Linked DNA regions of Homo sapiens: region 1 is linked to region 2. Evidence: fine-mapped expression QTL. A gene starts in region 2. The other region holds a variant in brackets. All regions are shown on one strand. Distances are from middle to middle.

Region 1 (8,323 bases), 19 kb after region 2:
TCCATGACTGCTGAATGGTGCTCTGAGTTAATGGCTCCCAGCTTTCTTAGCCATTCCATTCCTCCATCACTGGGCATTAGGCTGTCTGTCTCCAGTCTTTTTTTTTTTTTTTTTTTGAGATGGAGTCTCCCTCTGTTGCCCAGGCTGGAGTGCAATGGCGTGATCTCGGCTCACTGCAACCTCTGCCTCCCAGGTTCAAGCCATTCTCCTGCCTCAGCCTCCTGAGTAGCTGGGATTACAGGCGCACACCACCAGGCCCAGCTAATTTTATTTTTTTATGTATTTTTTAATTTTTTTTTTTTTTGTATTTTTAGTAGAGACAGGGTTTCGCCATATTGGTCAGGCTGGTCTCAAACTCCTGACGTCGTGGTCCACCCGCCTCGGCCTCCCAAAGTGCTGGGATTACAGGCGTGAGCCACTGCGACTAGCCTGTCTCCAGTCTTTCGCTATTATGAATAAGGCTTCAACAAATACGTGTGTGACTTTTTTCGCCTTTGAAATAGTTCCACAGGGTTAAGTTCTAGGAGGTAAATCATATTCATTTAAATCACATTCATTTTAAAGCCATTATTTGAGGAAACTGAATCATATTCATTTTAAAACCATCATTCTTTTTTTTTTTTTTTTGGAGATGGAGTTTCACTCTTGTCGCCTGGGCTGGAGTGCAATGGCATGATCTCAGTGTGCTGCAACCTCTGCCTCCCAGGTTCAAGCAGTTCTCCTGCCTCAGCCTCCCTAGTAGCTGGGATTACAGGCACCCGCCACCATGCCTGGCTAATTTCTTTGTATTATTAGTTGAGATGGGGTTTCACCATGTTGGCCAGGCTGGTCTCAAACTCCTGACCTCAGGTGATCCACCTACCTCAGCCTCCCAAAGTGCTGGGATTACAGGCATGAGCCACCACACCTGGCCAAAACCATCATTTATTTTAAAGCCATTATTTGAAGAAATTTTGCTGGAGTTTCATGTACCGCAAGACCACCCCACCCTGGGACCATTTTGACTCTGAGCAGCTCTTGGATCAGAGTTTTGTAATGTTCCCCCTGCCTGGTGGCACCTAGTACCAATTGCTCAGTGGGAGGAAGGTCCTTCCCTCTTCTCTTTCCCAGCTCTTAATTTGGGCAAGATGGTAGCAAACATCAGAAGGTTGTCCTAGTGCCTGGCGGTGAGCCCATTGAGGTGTTATCTGGGGAAGATCTTTGGGGTGGGAGTCAAGAGACTTGGGCTCCAGCACCGCCCGGCTCCCTTGTGAGTTCTGTGGCCTTTGGCAAGTCACCTCTCCTGGTCCCAACAGCCTAATCAAGACCACTGGGTTGGATCCTCTCCCAGATGTCTACCATCTCTCAATCTCAGTGGGAGTCATGTGACACAGTGGGTGCTGCATTTTAGCACCCCAAGGAGTACATAAGAAAATCCACTGGGGCCAGGCGCAATGGCTCAAGCCTGTAATCCCAGCACTTTGGGAGGCCGAGGCAGGTGGATCCCCTGAGGTCAGGAGTTTGAGACCAACTTGGCCAACATGGTGGAACCCCGTCTCTACTAAAAAAAATACAAAAATTAGCCGGGTGTGGTAGCAGGTGCCTGTAATCCCAGCTACTCAGGAGGCTAAGGCAGGAGAATTGCCTGAATCTGGGAGGTGGAGGTACAGTGAGCCAAGAGTGCACCATTACATTCCAGCATGGGCAACAAGAGCGAAACTCTGTCTCAAAAAAAAGAAAGAAAAAGAAAATCCACTGGGATTTAGAAAGAACACACCAAAACTTGTGCACATGCGTGTGTGTGTGTGGTGTGTGTGTGTAAACTAAAACTTACTAATGCGTGGAATGACAATAGACATGAATATAACCTATAAAAATATATATGTGTGTAGATATATACACATATATGTATATACACAAATTACATATTCAGTGTTTGTCCTGTGATGCCCCCTACTTTTGATAGTACATTGCTGTTTAAGTGAATGGAGCCCTGGGGTGGGAATTAAACTCTGGCTTCAATCCATGACCTAGGGCAAGTCCCTTAATTTGGTCTTTCCATCTTGAAAGTATGATCCCTCCACACCCAGGTATTTTAAGGAGATATTTGACACAGATACATAAATGGTACAGGAGTCCTGATGGTGACATTTCATGTTCCCATCCTGGGTTTGTTTTTTTGTTTCTTTGTTTGTTTTTTTTTGAGACAGAATCTTGCTCTGTCACCCAGGCTGGAATGCAGTGGCGCGATCTCAGCTCACTGCAACCTCCACCTCCTGGGTTCAAGCGATTCTCCCTGCCTCAGCCTCCTGAATAACTGGGACTACAGGTGCACACCACCATGCCTGGCTGATTTCTGTGTTTTTAGTGGAGATGGGGTTTCACCATGTTGGCCAGGCTGGTCTCGAACTCCTGACCTCAGGAGATCCACCCGCCTCAGCCTCCCAAAGTGCTGGGATTACAGGTGTGAGCCACCACGCCCGGCCTTGTGTTTGGTTTTTGATTGTGGTTACTTAGGCTCAGAATATTACAGCAGTGAGCCTTAACCTCCTTGCGCACGCAGCACACTTCCAGATGCAAGGGCTTTTGAGCAGGGCACATGAAGGAGTTAAAAGATCCCCAAGAATACTAAAGTCAGCTAAAATCACAACACAGTCGGCATTGAAGTCCTGCCTGGAACATGTAACCACGTGTATCTAAGCGGTCACTGTTCTCGCCCATTCACTTAGCTGCCCTCAGCCCTGCCACAGTTTGAATGAAACACAGTCTTCCGCCTTCCCTGTGCTTTCCTATCTTTGCAGGGTAAGGCTGGTGAGTGTTCCAGAAAGTACTGGATTTTTCTCTGGTGACTAAAGCCAGAGTCCCTCACCTCTTAGAGTTGTGGCCCATGTCCCAGTGAGCCTCTTGCACAACCCCCTCCAGCGTGCTGTTCCATCTGACAAGCCTTGTGTAGCAGAATGCCACCTGTGTTTCGGCAAAGTGAAGTTCCGCCTAGGGGTAGGATGTCAGCCCCTCCTGTGAGAAGGGGCCGTGGCCTGCCAGGCAAAACCTGGGAAAGGATGGCCAGGACCAGAGGCTGCCCCTGGAAGGCCTGGAGTCCCATTTGATCCTGTCTTTTCTCTCCTCCCTGGTCTGGGCCCTCCACAATCCCGGGTGTCTCTACCTCCAAAACATGGCCTAAATGTCTCCCACTGTGTCCCCCTTCGCCAGACCCACATCCTGGTCTCCATCCTCTTTGACCTGCATTTCTGCAACAGCCTCCTGACTGAATTCCAGCTCCCCTCCTTCATTCCTCCAATGCCAGGACCTCCGGGAGCTTCCAGATACACAGATTGAATCACTCGCCTGCTTACAAACAGCCGCCGGTTTCCTTGTACACCTATAATGACCTCCAAACTCCTTACCTGGGCTGGGTGCGGTGGCTCATGCCTGTAATGCCAGAACTTTGGGAGGCCAAGGCGGGTGGATTGCTTGATGCCAGGAGTTCGAGACCAGCCTGGCCGACGTGGTGAAACCCCATCTCTAAAAACATAAAAAAATCGGCCAGGAGCAGTGGCTCCTGTAATCCCAGCACTTTGGGAGGCCGAGGCGGGCAGATCACCTGAAGTCAGGAGTTCAGGACCAGCCTAGCCAACATGGTGAAACCTGGTCTCTCCAAAAAATTCAAAAATTAACTGGGCATGATGGCAGGTGCCTGTAATAAAAACTAAAAACAAAACAGAACTCTTTATGTGGCCTGGTAGGGAGGGCTCTATGTAACCTGGGCCCTGGCTGCATGGATTTTTATTCTATTCCATAAATGCCACAAGCCTGTTCCTATACCCCGGCGTTTGCACGCGCCGTTCCCTCTGCCTGGGTCGCTTCTGACCCGGCTGGTTCCTTCTCATCATTTGGTTCTCAACTCATGATGCTCCTTCCTCAAGAGGGGCCTCCCCCAGACCCCCTGACTCCCACACCCACTCATACCACCCCTTTCCCTCCTTATACTGAGGAATATGAGATACCATTTATTTTATTTATAGGTTTACACCTCCATTCCCCACCCCCACCCCCCACACTCACACTACACACGTGCCCTGGGAAAACAGCGTGCTATTTTCACTGCTCTATCTCCAGGGCCTAGAAGAGTTTGTGAATATCAGTGGGTCTGCAGGAAGTCATGGAGTGAGTGACTGGATGATGAGTAATGGAACAAAGCCTCTTGTAGCCGATCCAGGTCACAACTAAAGTCATCGTGCACTAAAAGCCCTCTGCTATTCGGCCACATTGCCTGGACCTGGCATCGGGTGGTTGGTTAGAACAGCTAGGGGAAGGCCCTGCAGAGGGCATGCTGCCCAGCAGCAGTGGCGGAGGCAGTGGCAGTGGGCATTGAGGCATGTTGTGTACCCTGTATACCGGGGTGAACCGCAGGGCAGCTTCAGAGAGCGAGGCCTGCCTAGCTGCCCCATGAGAGCTCAGGTCTGGCGCCTGCCTCAAGCCAAGCTGCCAGGGACAGGCCACTGCCCGGTCACTTGGAGTGAGAAGTGTTGGTCCCGTCTGTCCTTCTGCTCTGGGTCTGCTGGGCTGGCCAAGCTGGGAGGGCCAGGGAGGATAGGCGAGGGGTCCAGGCAAGGGTGGTCTTCCGTAGTCTCAGGAACAGGGCTGAACTAAAGGTGTGGTTGCTGTGACCCAAGCAGGGGCCTGACCTTCTGGGGAGGGCTCCTCGTTCCCACCTTAAAGGAAGGTTCCGTGGTCAGTGGGCTGAGGGTAGAGGAATCTGTTCCTCCGGAGGCTCAGGAGAGCTAGGGAGGGCTGTGAGCTGTGATCCATTTTCCCTCTCCCTGCCAAGAAAGTGGGATGTGGTTTCTGGGGTGGGGTGGGGGTGTCCCGCCCAAGGCAGGCTATGGGGAGTGCCTGCCCCACGTTGGGCAGCCTATTTTAGCCACTTCCCCAGAGCTGAGTCACCATGCTTCTGAAAGCCCCGCCCAAAGCCACAATGCCCTGTGGCCTCCCAAACCATAGCTGCCCCCAGGACCTGCCCAGGCCTCTGGCGAGACTCCCACCACCTACTTTCTCTTAAACTCTATGATCCAGCTC[G/A]TCACCTCCAAACTGTTCTCTGTTAGAAGCTCAGAGTGACTCAAGGTCACTCAAGGCTGGTGAAACCAAGCTGTTGCTGACCCTCAATCCTGCTGGGTGGCCTGTCTAGTCTGAGCTCCAGACACCCAGGCCTCATCCCCAGTGTGGACTGCCAGGTACTGCAGCCCCCTCCTCGCTGGGGCAGTGGGACAGATGCGTGACTCCCTCTAGGCCCCAACTCTCTCAGGACCCTTCCTTGCTGGTTATTGAAGATGGCTTTCTACAAGCCACAAAGTCTCGTTCCCAACCCCCCAGGAAGCGAGACCGTGGCAGCAGGCAGCACTGGGTAGACCTGTCCCTGTCTTTCTGGGGTGTGGGGTTGAACAAGATCCTGGGGACCCCAGGGCTAGCCCAGGATGGCCGTGATTTCAGCTGAGTTTCCCTGCTGTCCCCTCTGACCTACCTCAATAGTTCTACCCGCAAGGATGTGCTGGGTGGTGTGGCTAATGGGATGCGGGGAGCTGTCCTCCCCTGTAGCCATCATGGCCAGGATATTTGGTCCCTTTGGGCAGCCACAGTGACCTGCAGCTTCTCTGGTGAGTCCTGGGGAGCCGGGTCTGTGGTTTCCCTTTCTTTCCTCTCTAATGAGCGTATAAGATCGGGAAACCACAGGACCTGACATCACTCACAGGGTCTGGGGGTTCCTGCCTTGGCGTTGAAACCCTTAACGCAGCTCTGGGGGCTCGTGCCGCCATGTTCTCACCCGGTTCTGACCATCCACACCCGCCTCCCTGCTTCTCTGTCTTTGTTGTTTACCTGGTGAGCATACCTGCTCTATCTTCACCTGTGTGTTCTCACTCAAGGCTGCTGTTTCTCAACTGGGGCAGTTTTGCCTCCTGGGGGACATTGGGCAATATCTTGAGACAGTTTTGCTTGTTGTGACTGGGGGGTGGATGCTACTGGCATCTAATGGGTAGAGACCAGGGATGCTGCTGAATATCCTACAGTGCACAGGGCAGGTCCACCTCCCGATGAGAAATTATCTGGCCCAAATAGCAACAGTGTGGAACCTGCTCTAGGATTACACAAGAACCTTCTTGAAGCAGCTGTTGGGTACCCCCTTCTCTGTACCCTGCCGGCCAGCAGTGGGGAGGAGCACTCAGTGGTCGGTGGTCACTGACCAGCAATGCCGCCGCCAGAGCTGGAGAAGGGCCTGGAGTGGAGCGGAGAGAGCTCTGGACTCAAAGACCCAGTTTCTAGCCCAGCTCTGTTGCTTTGGGCTAAAAACCTGGATAAATCACTTTCCTTCAATAAACTTGTTTCCTCATCCATAAAGTGAAAGTGCTGCACTGAATATCCCCTCCAGTTCTTTGAGATTCCTGGATGCTGTGCGTAGAGCCAGGAGTCGGGGTGCAGGCAGGTGGAAGATGGGGTCCCCTCCGTTCCTGACTGGTGTCCCTGCTGGTGGCAGTAGAAGCCTGAAGGATTTGCCAGGAACGAGAGTTCGTTTGAAGCTTGGCCTTTTTCCCTTCTATGCCCAACGTGACTGAGGCAGAGTCTACCTTCTCTTTTTCTTTTTCTTTTCTTCTGCTGCTTCTTTTTCTCTTTCTTTCCTTCCTTGCTTTTCTTTTCCTTTCTTCCTTTCTTCTCTTCCTTTCCTTTCCTTCTTTCCTTTCTTTTTCTTTCTCTCTTTCTTTTTTTCTTTCCTTATTTCCTTTCCTTCCTTCCTTTCCTTCCCCTCCCTTCCTCCCTCCCTTCCTCCCTCCCTCCCTTCCTCCCTTCCTGTTTTCTTCAGAGTTTTGCCTAGGAGCCCATGGCTGGCCAAGAGGGTCATATATGATATTCAGGAGTCAGCAAACTACAGTCCATGGGCCAAACCCAGCCTGCGTTTGCTTTTGTAAATAAAGATGTGGCTTTTTGGTGGTTTTTTTTCTTTTACTGGTTTATTACAAAAGATACGACTCAGGAACAGCCAAACGGAAGAGCTGCATGAGGATGCGTGGGGTCAAGTGTTGGGGTGGGGGGCAGGGCACGCACCACCTTCCTGGCACCTCGATCTGCTCACCAACCCAGAAGTTGTCTGTAAATAAAATGTTATTGGAACATAGCCATGCCTACTTGTTTACATGTTGCTATGGCTCCTTTCTTTCTTTTTTTGATTTTGTGTAGAGATGGGGTCTCACCGTGTTGCCCAGGCTGGTCTGGAACTCCTGGGCTCAACTGATCCTCCTGCCGTAGCCTCCCAGAGTGCTGGGATTACAGTTGTGACCCACTGTGCCCGGCCAACGGCTAGTTTTATACTAAGAAGACAGTTGAGTAGCTGTGACAAAAACCCTATCAGCCACAAGGCCGAGAATATTTACTCTCTGGCCCTTTGCAAAAAGTGTTTGCTGACCTTTGGTCTAGCGGTTCAATGTCTAATTGTTTAGAGGTTGAGGTGGGGCAGGAGGGTGGGGCCCAGAGATAATCCAAGTTAGAGTTAGGGGAAGGTCACTTTCCTAAGGGTAGGGAGGAGAGAGAGCTGACCTATGACCCAGAGTAGAGTATCATCTCAAGGCATCCCTCACGTCCTCGCCCACGTCACTGTGTGGCAAGTCTGCCAGGTGCCTGGCTCCCCCTCCCTGCCCGAGAGAACTTTGTGTTTGCTGGAATGATAAGCGGTATGGCGTGGGCACTGGGAGGGGGGACATTGCTGGTGGGGGAAGCCATGAGGCTGGGCAGCAGAGGCTTGAGAGAACAGGGAAGCGGATGGGGGTGAGGATGCAGAGAGGTCAGGCTGGGAGCCCTGGAGCCAGGCTGTGGGCAGAAGGGGAGGAGAGGAGGGAGGTGCTGGACTTCCAGTGGGTGCTTGGAGGCGGTTGGAGGCGGACCATGTGTCACACCCTGCTGGACCAGACTCGGTGGTAAACAGACCTGTTAAAACCCTCTGGATGGACCAGGCGCGGTGGCTCACGCTGATCCCACGTCCTGATCCCAGCACTGGGAGGCCGAGGTGGGTGGATCACCTGAGGTCAGGAGTTCGAGACCAGCCTGACCAACATGGTGAAACTCCATCTCTATCTCTACTAAAATTACAAAAAAAAAAAAAAAATAGCTGGACGTGGTGGTGTGCACCTGTAAATCTCAGCTACTCAGGAGACTGAGGCAAGAGAATCGCTAGAACCCGGGAGGCAGAAGTTGCAGTGAGCCAAGATCATGCCATTACACTCCGGCCTGGGGGACAGGGCGAGAATCTGCCTCAAAACCCTAGAAGTTTGTACTGCAGTGGGAAGATGAGAGTCCAGCCAGC
Region 2 (8,323 bases):
TTGTTAAATGTTTGTGGAAGGAGCCTGAATTTGGGTAAGGAGCAGAATTACAAAGGGACCTAAAGACTTTGTCCCGGAGGTGTGCTTAATAGATATGGATGATAATTGGGAAAAGGAAAACAGATTACTAACAGCTAGCCCTAAGAAAACCGAAATACTTCATTTAAAATGGAAGGAAAGAGATGGGGAGAGGGAGATGTCTCAGAGAAAATAAGAAACGTTTTTTTTTTGTTTTTGTTTTTAACTTAAGCTATGATTTCAGGAGAAAGAGGTCCTGGAACGCCAGGAACCAGGGAGGACTTCCACCTGGAAGCAATGTGGTAGAAGGAGACCCACTGAGGGCCTGCATATGCCCAGCAAATGGCCAGGTGCCTTTGTTTGTTTGTTTGTTTGTTTTTTGAGACAGGGTCTCCCTCTGTTACCCAGGCTAGAATGCAGTGGCATGATCTTGGCTTACTGCAGCCTCAACCTGCAGGCTCAAGTGGATTCTCCCATCTCAGCCTCCCAAATAGCTGGGACTACAGGCATGCACCACCACACCTTGCTGATTTTTGTATACTTTTGTAGAGATGGGGTTTCGCCAGGTTGCCAGGTTTCTCTTGAACTCCTGGGCTCAAGCGATCCACTGGCTTCAGCCTCCCAAAGCAGTGGGATTACAGGCATGAGCCACCGCGCCCAGCCTAAGTGATCTCTTTTAATATTCACCCCAATAGGGGAAGGTAGAGATTGCTGTTCTCACTTTACAGATGGGGAAGCTGGTGGATAACTTGTCAGCTCATAAATGGCAGAGCTAGAATTCCAATCCAGAGGCGTCTCCAAACCTCTATCCAGCGAGCCTTACCCACAGTCCTGTTGCAGCTCCTACTTCTTTTGAGGACACCTTTGGCACTAGGTCATGATGACAGCAATCACCTCCATTCTGGTTGCTTTCTAGTCATAAAGCGCTTTCACACCTGATATCTCATTCCTCTTTACACCCTCCAGACGAGGCTAGCAGAGGGGTCCTGTGCTCTTTGGACACATAAGGACAGCCAGGCTAGCTAAGGGTCAGAGGTGGGAATTAGCGACTTCCCCATGTGAAAGGGAATAGAATCTCGGGACCCCAAATTCACTATGTCAAAGGGAAAGTTTAATCCCAGCACTTTTGGAGGTTGAGGTGGGTGGATTGCTTGAGCTCAGGAGTTTGAGACCAGCCTGGGCAACATGACAGAACCCTGTCTCTACAAAAGAAAAAGTACAAAATATGTAGCTGGGCATGGTGGCGCACACCTGTAGTCTCAGCTACTCAGGAGGGTGAGGTGGGAGGATCGCTTGAGCCCAGGAGGCCAAGGCTATAGTGAGCTACGATTGCAGCACTGCACTCCAGCCTGGGCAACAGAGCAAGACCCTGTCTCCAAAAAAAAAAAAGGGGCGGGGCTGGGGGGGACGTTAAGCTTGGAAACCACAGAAGCTGCTTTCCTTTTGTTCCCAGATAGCTGCAGTTTCACAACCCTGTTGACACAGGGTTTCCTTTGCTCCCCTTAGACGTACTGAGTAGGAGACAATGCATCATTGACTTTTTCTTCTATTCCCTTTCACATGTAAAATGTAGACTTACAGACACTAAATCAGAGCCTCACACGCTTGTGACCTCAATGCCTTTCCTCCCTCTCTCCCTCTTCTTTTCCTTTCCTGCTTGCTTTTTCTCTTTTAAATACAGAAGTTCCCAAAACCTTTTTGGAAAAAAGGTGATTTTTCCCCGGTGGATCCTCAACCTTGGCTAACTAAACCTCTATTTGATTGAGATCTGCCTTAGTCACTTTTTGGTTTACATCCATGATAACCCCGCCAGGGTTTGAATCCACAGTGTCTGCCTCCCAAGTGGCTCCAAACCCTACCTTTCCCTCCAGATGTCCAGTTCAGAATTTGATTTTACTTATTATTCATTTATTTTTTTTTTTGAGATGGAGTCTACCTCTGTCACCCAGGCTAGAGTGCAATAGCGCGATCTCGGCTCACTGCAACCTCCACCTCCCAGGTTCAAGCGATTGTCCCGCCTCAGCCTCCTGGGTAGCTGGGATTACAGGCGCCCACCACCATGCCCGACTAATTTTTGTATTTTTGGTAGAGATGGGGTTTCGCCATGTTGGCCAGGCTGGTCTCAAACTTCTGACCTCAAGTGACCCCCCACCTGCCTTGGCCTCCCAAAATGCTAGGATTACAGGCATGAGCCACTGCGCCCAGCCCAGAACTTAATTTTCACAGCAGGATGGAGTGGCCAAACCATTAGCTCTCAAGAGCTGGTTGCTGTCGCACTGCAGAGGGAAACGGAAATGTGCTGTCCCCAGAAAGCAGAATGTTCCTGAGGGCTTAGGGACCTCGCAGCCATGGGGAAAGTCTGGGGCCTTCACCCTCACTTCCTTTAAAAACCGAGGGTGGGGTTCAGCTAGAGGCAAGGGAACTTTTCACTTTGCGCCTTGTCCACTTTAGTTGACTACTTCGCAGCTGGCATTCTACCTTGATAATGATCATTTCAACTGAAACTATTCCTCTAAAAAGAATAGAGTCCAAGGCCTGGGACTTGGATTCAGGCTCTGGGACTCAGGAGTTGATCCTCCTTGACGTTCACCTGGTGCAAATTTAGCCTCAGCTGATACTTAGGAGGCAAAGGCACAGACGGGGATGCGGGGAGCTCAAGGGCTGTCACCCTGTAGAAACATTTCTGACGCCCAGTCCAAGCCTGGCCTCGGGGCTGGCCGGCTCCTCCCCGCTCCCTCGTTTACAGCGAGAGTCTGGGATGGCACCCACGAAGCTGGTGGCGCCAGCCCTCCTGCCCCATCTCCCGACAGTACTGCAGCCAGGTGGTTAGCAGGTCCGGGAGGGAGCAGGAACGAGGAACGCCACCCGGGCTGGAGTTCTTGGTTTCTTGCCCCGGCTCGAATGGGGAAGAGCCTCAAAAGAGCCTCGCGCCAGGCCCCCGGAGGGAGACGCGCCCCTGGCCCTGGGGGCCCCAGTGGGGGTTCGCGGCCGGAGCGCAGGCTGGGGCGGGAGTGTCTCCCGGAAGCCGGGCGGGCCCAGGCTGCCCCATACGGAGTTGGGAAAGTCTCAGGCTTTCAGTTTGAACCGAGGAGGCCGAGCAGTCGGGCAGAGGTTCCCGACGGCCATTGGCTGCTGCGGCGCCGTGACATCAGCGCAGAGGGGTGCGCGGGGAGGGTTGCGCGGGGCGGGCGCGGGCGGAGCCTGGAAGGGGAGTGTCCTGGAGGCTCCCAGCCCTGAAAGCCCGAGAGCCAGAGGGAAACAAACGCCGGCGCTGACAGGGGCCGCCAGCCCCTCCGCCGCGCGGAGCCCACGAAGGGGACAGCGCAGCCGGCCCAGAGCTCGGGTCTCCGGGGACCGAGGTAGGCGACGGGCAACCGCCTCTGTCTGTGGTAGCCGCCTTCGCGCTGGGTGCCCTGGGTGGGCTTGGGGGTCTCGAGTCCCCCTGTGGGGCAGAGAGGATCGAAGCTGGGGATGCGAGGCCGCGGCGCGGGGAGAAGGGCGCGGAGCCCCCACTTCTCGGCGCTCGCGCTTTTCACCGCGCCCACCGCGGTGCCTGGGACCCTAAGCTGCGCACCTAGTGTCCTGGCAGAGCGGGATGTGTGGAGGAGGAGGTGGCAGGGAGCCGGGCGCAGCGTTGCCGGGACTCCATTTCCTCTCTCCACGCTGGAACTCCCGGCCCTGGCCAAGGGTGCCGCTGAGGGGGTTGGGGGCCGGTTTTAAAGGGCCTCCCCCTTCCCAGGAATGGGGTGTGTGTCGGTGTGGGCAGGAGCGCAGCAATCGGCGGCGCGCGGCCCGCGATCTCCGCGAGGGGGGCGTGTGTGCGCCCGGAGTTCTCCATGAATAAGAACCGAATTCTCCGCCTGTACGGGCAGAGGCGTGTACACATCTCGCTCTCGTACACACACTGCAGCACACGCCACCCAATGTCACCCGGCCGGGAAGCCAGAGGGAAGGAGCTGTCTGGAAGGGAATGGCCGAAGGAACAAATGGTCCTCCTTTCCCCTACTCCCGCCCCGCGAACCCTTCCCTCCCCCGCCAGGCTCCCGCCCCGCCCGCTCCCTCGGAAGCCCGGGAGGCCGAGGCGCCTCCTGGCGGGGTGCGGGGGGAGGGCAGTCGAGCCACCCGCCCCCTTGGAGCCGGGGAGACGGCCGCTCCTGGGCTAGTGCGCCCCGAGCTCAGCGCGCTCAGCGGGATCGCAGGCGGGAGCGGTCGGTTAATGATTTAATCGCCCGCTTGGGGCGGGTGCGCGCGGATCGGCCGTCCCTGGCCCCGCCCCCTCTCCGGAGCGCCCCCAGCCGGGGTTACAAAACTGCCCCCTGCCCCCGGCGCGTCCCCCAGGAGCCATCCTGCCCGCGGGGATCCCGTCAGCCGGTGAGTGCCCCGGCCGGGAGGGCTGGAGAGCTGGGCGGGAGCCGGGGCTGAGGCTGAGCCAGCTTCCTGGGAGAGGACTGAAGTGCGTGTGTGTGTGTGTGTGTGTGTGTGTGTGTGTGTGTGTGTGTGTGTGTGTGACTGGGGGAGGGGTGCTCGCTGCTAACTCAAACCAGGTTCCCTGTGTTTTCCCAGTGACTGCGGCCTCGGCTTTGGAAGTTTTCTTTTTCTCCCTGGGAGAATGGAGGGGAAATACAATGCCTTTTCTTTTCTCGTTGCCTCTGGAACTTCTCTCTCTCCACGACTCCCACCCCTTGCAATCTGACCGGCTCCCACATCCCTTACTGTGTGCCCGGTGCCCACTGTTTGCCCAGATAGCTGAGCAGCTGGATCCGGGTGGAGTCCTTGGGAGCCCCCGTCGCTGCGAAGCCCCCTGCCCTCCCCTGAGGGTCCAGGGTGCTGGAGGGAAAATCTCTCTCTCGTCCGAACCCCAGCAGCCATCTGTACCAGAGAAATGTCCCATCCAGCGAGTGTAAATAATGAGGGGCCGGTGACAGGGGCCTCCTGCAAGGCGACTTCTTTGGCAGTCTGGGTTTCCAATAACTCCCTCAGCCCCCGCCCGCTTCTGAGGCTAGGGTGGAGGAGGGACCACCAGCAGGGTGGACTGAATTTTAAGAGAACAAAGAACAGGCCACAAAGGAAGGGATTGCTGAGCTGCGGATTTCTGATTTCTCCCAGAAATCGGGAGTTGGCTGGGACTGAGCCAGGCCCTAAGAGAGCCCCTGGCAGCCCCAGGGGCTCCTGGGGCAATAACAGGGCATCCACCAGGATCTCCTGAGGCTCTATCTCTGCTGAGAAGCCAGTGCCTACTGAATGCGGGGGTGCCCTGCCGGTTCCTGCTCTCATCAACTGCCCTGTGTGAGCTGCACATGTGACTGACTGATTAGTGGGGTGGCTTATCTCCTCTGAACTTGGACTTTGCCTCTCCACTCCTTGAAGACAGCTGCTCCTTCCCACAAGGGGTGTTCAGTGAATTTGGGGAGATCCCAAGTGGATTCCCAGGCATCCTGGTGGACCCCTGCAGGGACTAGGAGGGGCCCGCTGTGATCATATGGGCGGTGGTTCTGGGGTGAGTCTCAGCGCCTCCCCTCTGAAATCTCCCTGAAGTCCTAGGGTCCCTGCACACAGAGGGCAGCTTGCTCCTGCTCTGCTGTACAGCCTAGGCCTGTGCTGTGAATGATTCTCCATTTTCTGGGGTTTCTGCCTCTCTCTTTTTGGATTCCTCTTCTCTTTTCCCCTCGTTTCTCTCTTTCCCTTGCCCACCCACCGTGCTTGTCCCCATCCTCTGTACCCTGCCTCCACTGTGCTGCTGCCTCTGGAACCCGACAGCACCTCACAGAACCAGAGACCAAGGAGTCAGAAGCAAAGGGAGGTCTCATGTATAAAGGTCAGGGGAGTGAGTGTTGACCTGGGAGAGGAATCTTACACCAGTCTTTTGATTTTAAAAATAATTTTTATTTTATTTATTAATTTTTTGAGACCAGGTCTTGCTCTGTCACCCAGGTTGTGGTGCAGCGTCATAGTCAAGGCTCACTGCAGGCTGGACCTCCTGGGCTCAAGCTATCCTCCCACTTCAGCCTCCTGAGTAGCTGGGACTACTGGCGCCCACCACCACGCCCAGCCATTTTTTGTATTTTTTGTAGAGGTGGGGTTTCACCATGTTGCCCAGGCTGGTCTTGAACTCCTGAGCTCAAGGGATCTTCCCCCACCTCGGCCTCTCAAAGTGCTGGGCATACAGGTATGAGCCACTGCACCTGGCCAACCCTTTTTTTTTTTTTTTTTTTTGGAGACAGAGCTTTGCTCTGTTGCCCAGGCTGGAGTGCAGTGGCACAATCTTGGCTCACTGCATCCTCCACCTCCCGGGTTCAAGCAATTCTCCTGCCTCAGCCTCTGCAGTAGCTGGGATTATAGGTGCATGCCACCACGCCCGGCTAATTTTTTTTTGTATTTTAGTAGAAACAGGGTTTCACTGTGTTGCCCAGGCCGGTCGCGAACTCCTGAACTCAGGCAATCCACCCACCTCGGCCTCCCCAAGAGCCGGGATTACAGGCGTAAACCACTGCACCCAGCCCTGGCCAACCCTTCTTAACAAGTCCAGAGCTTTTCCAGAAGGGCCTTGGGTTGGCAGTGGCCCAGGGCTTCCACCCCTTTGGAGTGACTGATTGATTTCTGCGGCCCGGACTGTCTGTGCGCAGGTGTGGCCAAAAGGTGTTTGATGTTGGCCTCTCCCTTTCACTCTCCCCCACCCCACGCCCCTACGTTTGGATTGGGTTCGAAGTGAAGAAGTCAGAAGTCAGAGTGGTCAGGGTTGCACTTGGTTAGCAGTAAGTCCAGCCTTCTGTGTTCTCATTCTGGTTCTGCAGACTCAGAGGAGTTTGTCCCTGTGGGGGGAGGGAGGAGTCCGTCCCTTGGAGGAATGGGGAGCTGGGTTGATGCCAGAGATAAGGCCTGTGGGCGGAGGGAGAAGGGTTGAGCAATCTCGCCCTGGAAACAGAGCTGACCTGAGCTCTGCGTAGCTCTTCTGACCTACGTACTGGAGGATTTTTCCCGACCGTGAGGAAAAGAACCAAATTCTGGAGCTGGGGACACTTTGAGGGGTCATCCGGCAGAGTGTCCTGAAGGCCAACTCCAGCCAGTGCTTCTGGGGTGCTCTAGGAAGGCCAAGCCCATGCGTGCCCTCTCTCGGCAGGGAACTGGATGGTAGTGCTGGAAGGAGCCCGCATGTGGCACTGGACACAGCCCTTTTTGCTTGAGTGCGTTGGGAAGGAAATTCAGACATTAGGGCCGGGCACAGTGGCTCACGCCTGTAATCTCAGCACTTGGGGAGGCCAAGGCGGGCAGATCACTTGAGGTCAGGAGTTTGAGATCAGCCTGGCCAATATGGTGAAACCCCGTCTCTACTAAAAATACAAAAATTAGCCGGGCATGGTGGCGTGCACCTATAATCCCAGCTACTGGGGAAGCTGAGACACAAGAATCGCTTGAACCCAAGAGGTGGAGGTTGCTGTACTCCAGCATGGGCGATAGAGTGAGACTCCATCTCAAAAAAAAAAAAAAAAAAAAGAGAGAAATTCAGGGCCAGGCGTGGTGGCTCACACCTGTAATCCCAGCACTTTGGGAGGCCAAGGCGGGTGGATCAGGAGGTCAGGAGATCGAGACCATCCTGACTAACACAGTGAAACCCTGTCTCTACTAAAAAGTACAAAAAATTAGCTAGGCTTGGTGGTGGGCGCCTGTAGTCCCAGCTACTTGGGAGGCTGAGGCAGGAGAATGGTGTGAACCCGGGAGGCGGAGCTTGCAGTGAGCCGAGATCGCGCCACTGCATTCTAGCCTGGGTGACAGAGCGAGACTCCGTCTAAAAAAAAAAAAAAAAAAAGAAAGAAAGAAAAATTCAGACATTAGTCTCCCACATTCCCGCTCACCGTGCCCCGAAAGCTCCAGCTTAAAATACGCCTTCTTGAGGAGACTTGGGCTTCCTTCCAACTAACTTACATTGGAGTCTCCCCCAGGCACTGCCAGCTTGCAGCTCTGGGCTCTGTGCCAGGATGGCAGTGCTGGCATCCAAAGCCCTCCCTTGCCAGGAACAGGGGAACTGGCTGTCTCCACTCAAGCTGAGGAAGGGTCTCTCTTTTGGGATTCAGGTGAGCACAGTTTAGGGTGTGGTCATTAATGAAGGCTTACAGTTCCCCACCTGTAAGAAACTGCTCTGCACACCTGGTGTTTCCCCTTCACCCCAAAGATGGAGCTGAAGGCATCTGGAAAAACCACAGTGCCAGGCAAGAAGGATCCCTGGATGTCTGTGCTCAGCCAGAGCTGCTTCAGCCACCATCTTCTGCCTTGGCCATCACGGTAGCAGAGGTTGTCTGGGGCAGCCTCC

The links. PIP is the estimated chance that this variant, and not a neighbour inherited with it, causes the effect.
Region 1: its variant is fine-mapped to the expression of CDC42EP4 in whole blood (TOPMed, PIP above 0.99).

What each region holds. Positions count from the first base shown.
Region 1 is chr17:73,288,211-73,296,533 of GRCh38, reverse strand. All of the region lies in intron 1 of CDC42EP4 (CDC42 effector protein 4), which reads left to right. Among named protein-coding and RNA genes, the nearest start is that of CDC42EP4, 20 kb to the left of the region's middle. RefSeq lists enhancers at 4,549-4,618, 3,885-4,766, 4,750-5,044, 5,019-5,098, 5,389-5,608. The variant G/A (reference allele first, on the strand shown) is at 5,056.
Region 2 is chr17:73,306,947-73,315,269 of GRCh38, reverse strand. CDC42EP4 (CDC42 effector protein 4) reads left to right here and starts at 3,269. Exons shown (of 2, transcript NM_012121.5): 1 at 3,269-3,377. RefSeq lists silencers at 2,891-3,050, 3,121-3,380, 3,831-4,380, 4,391-4,520.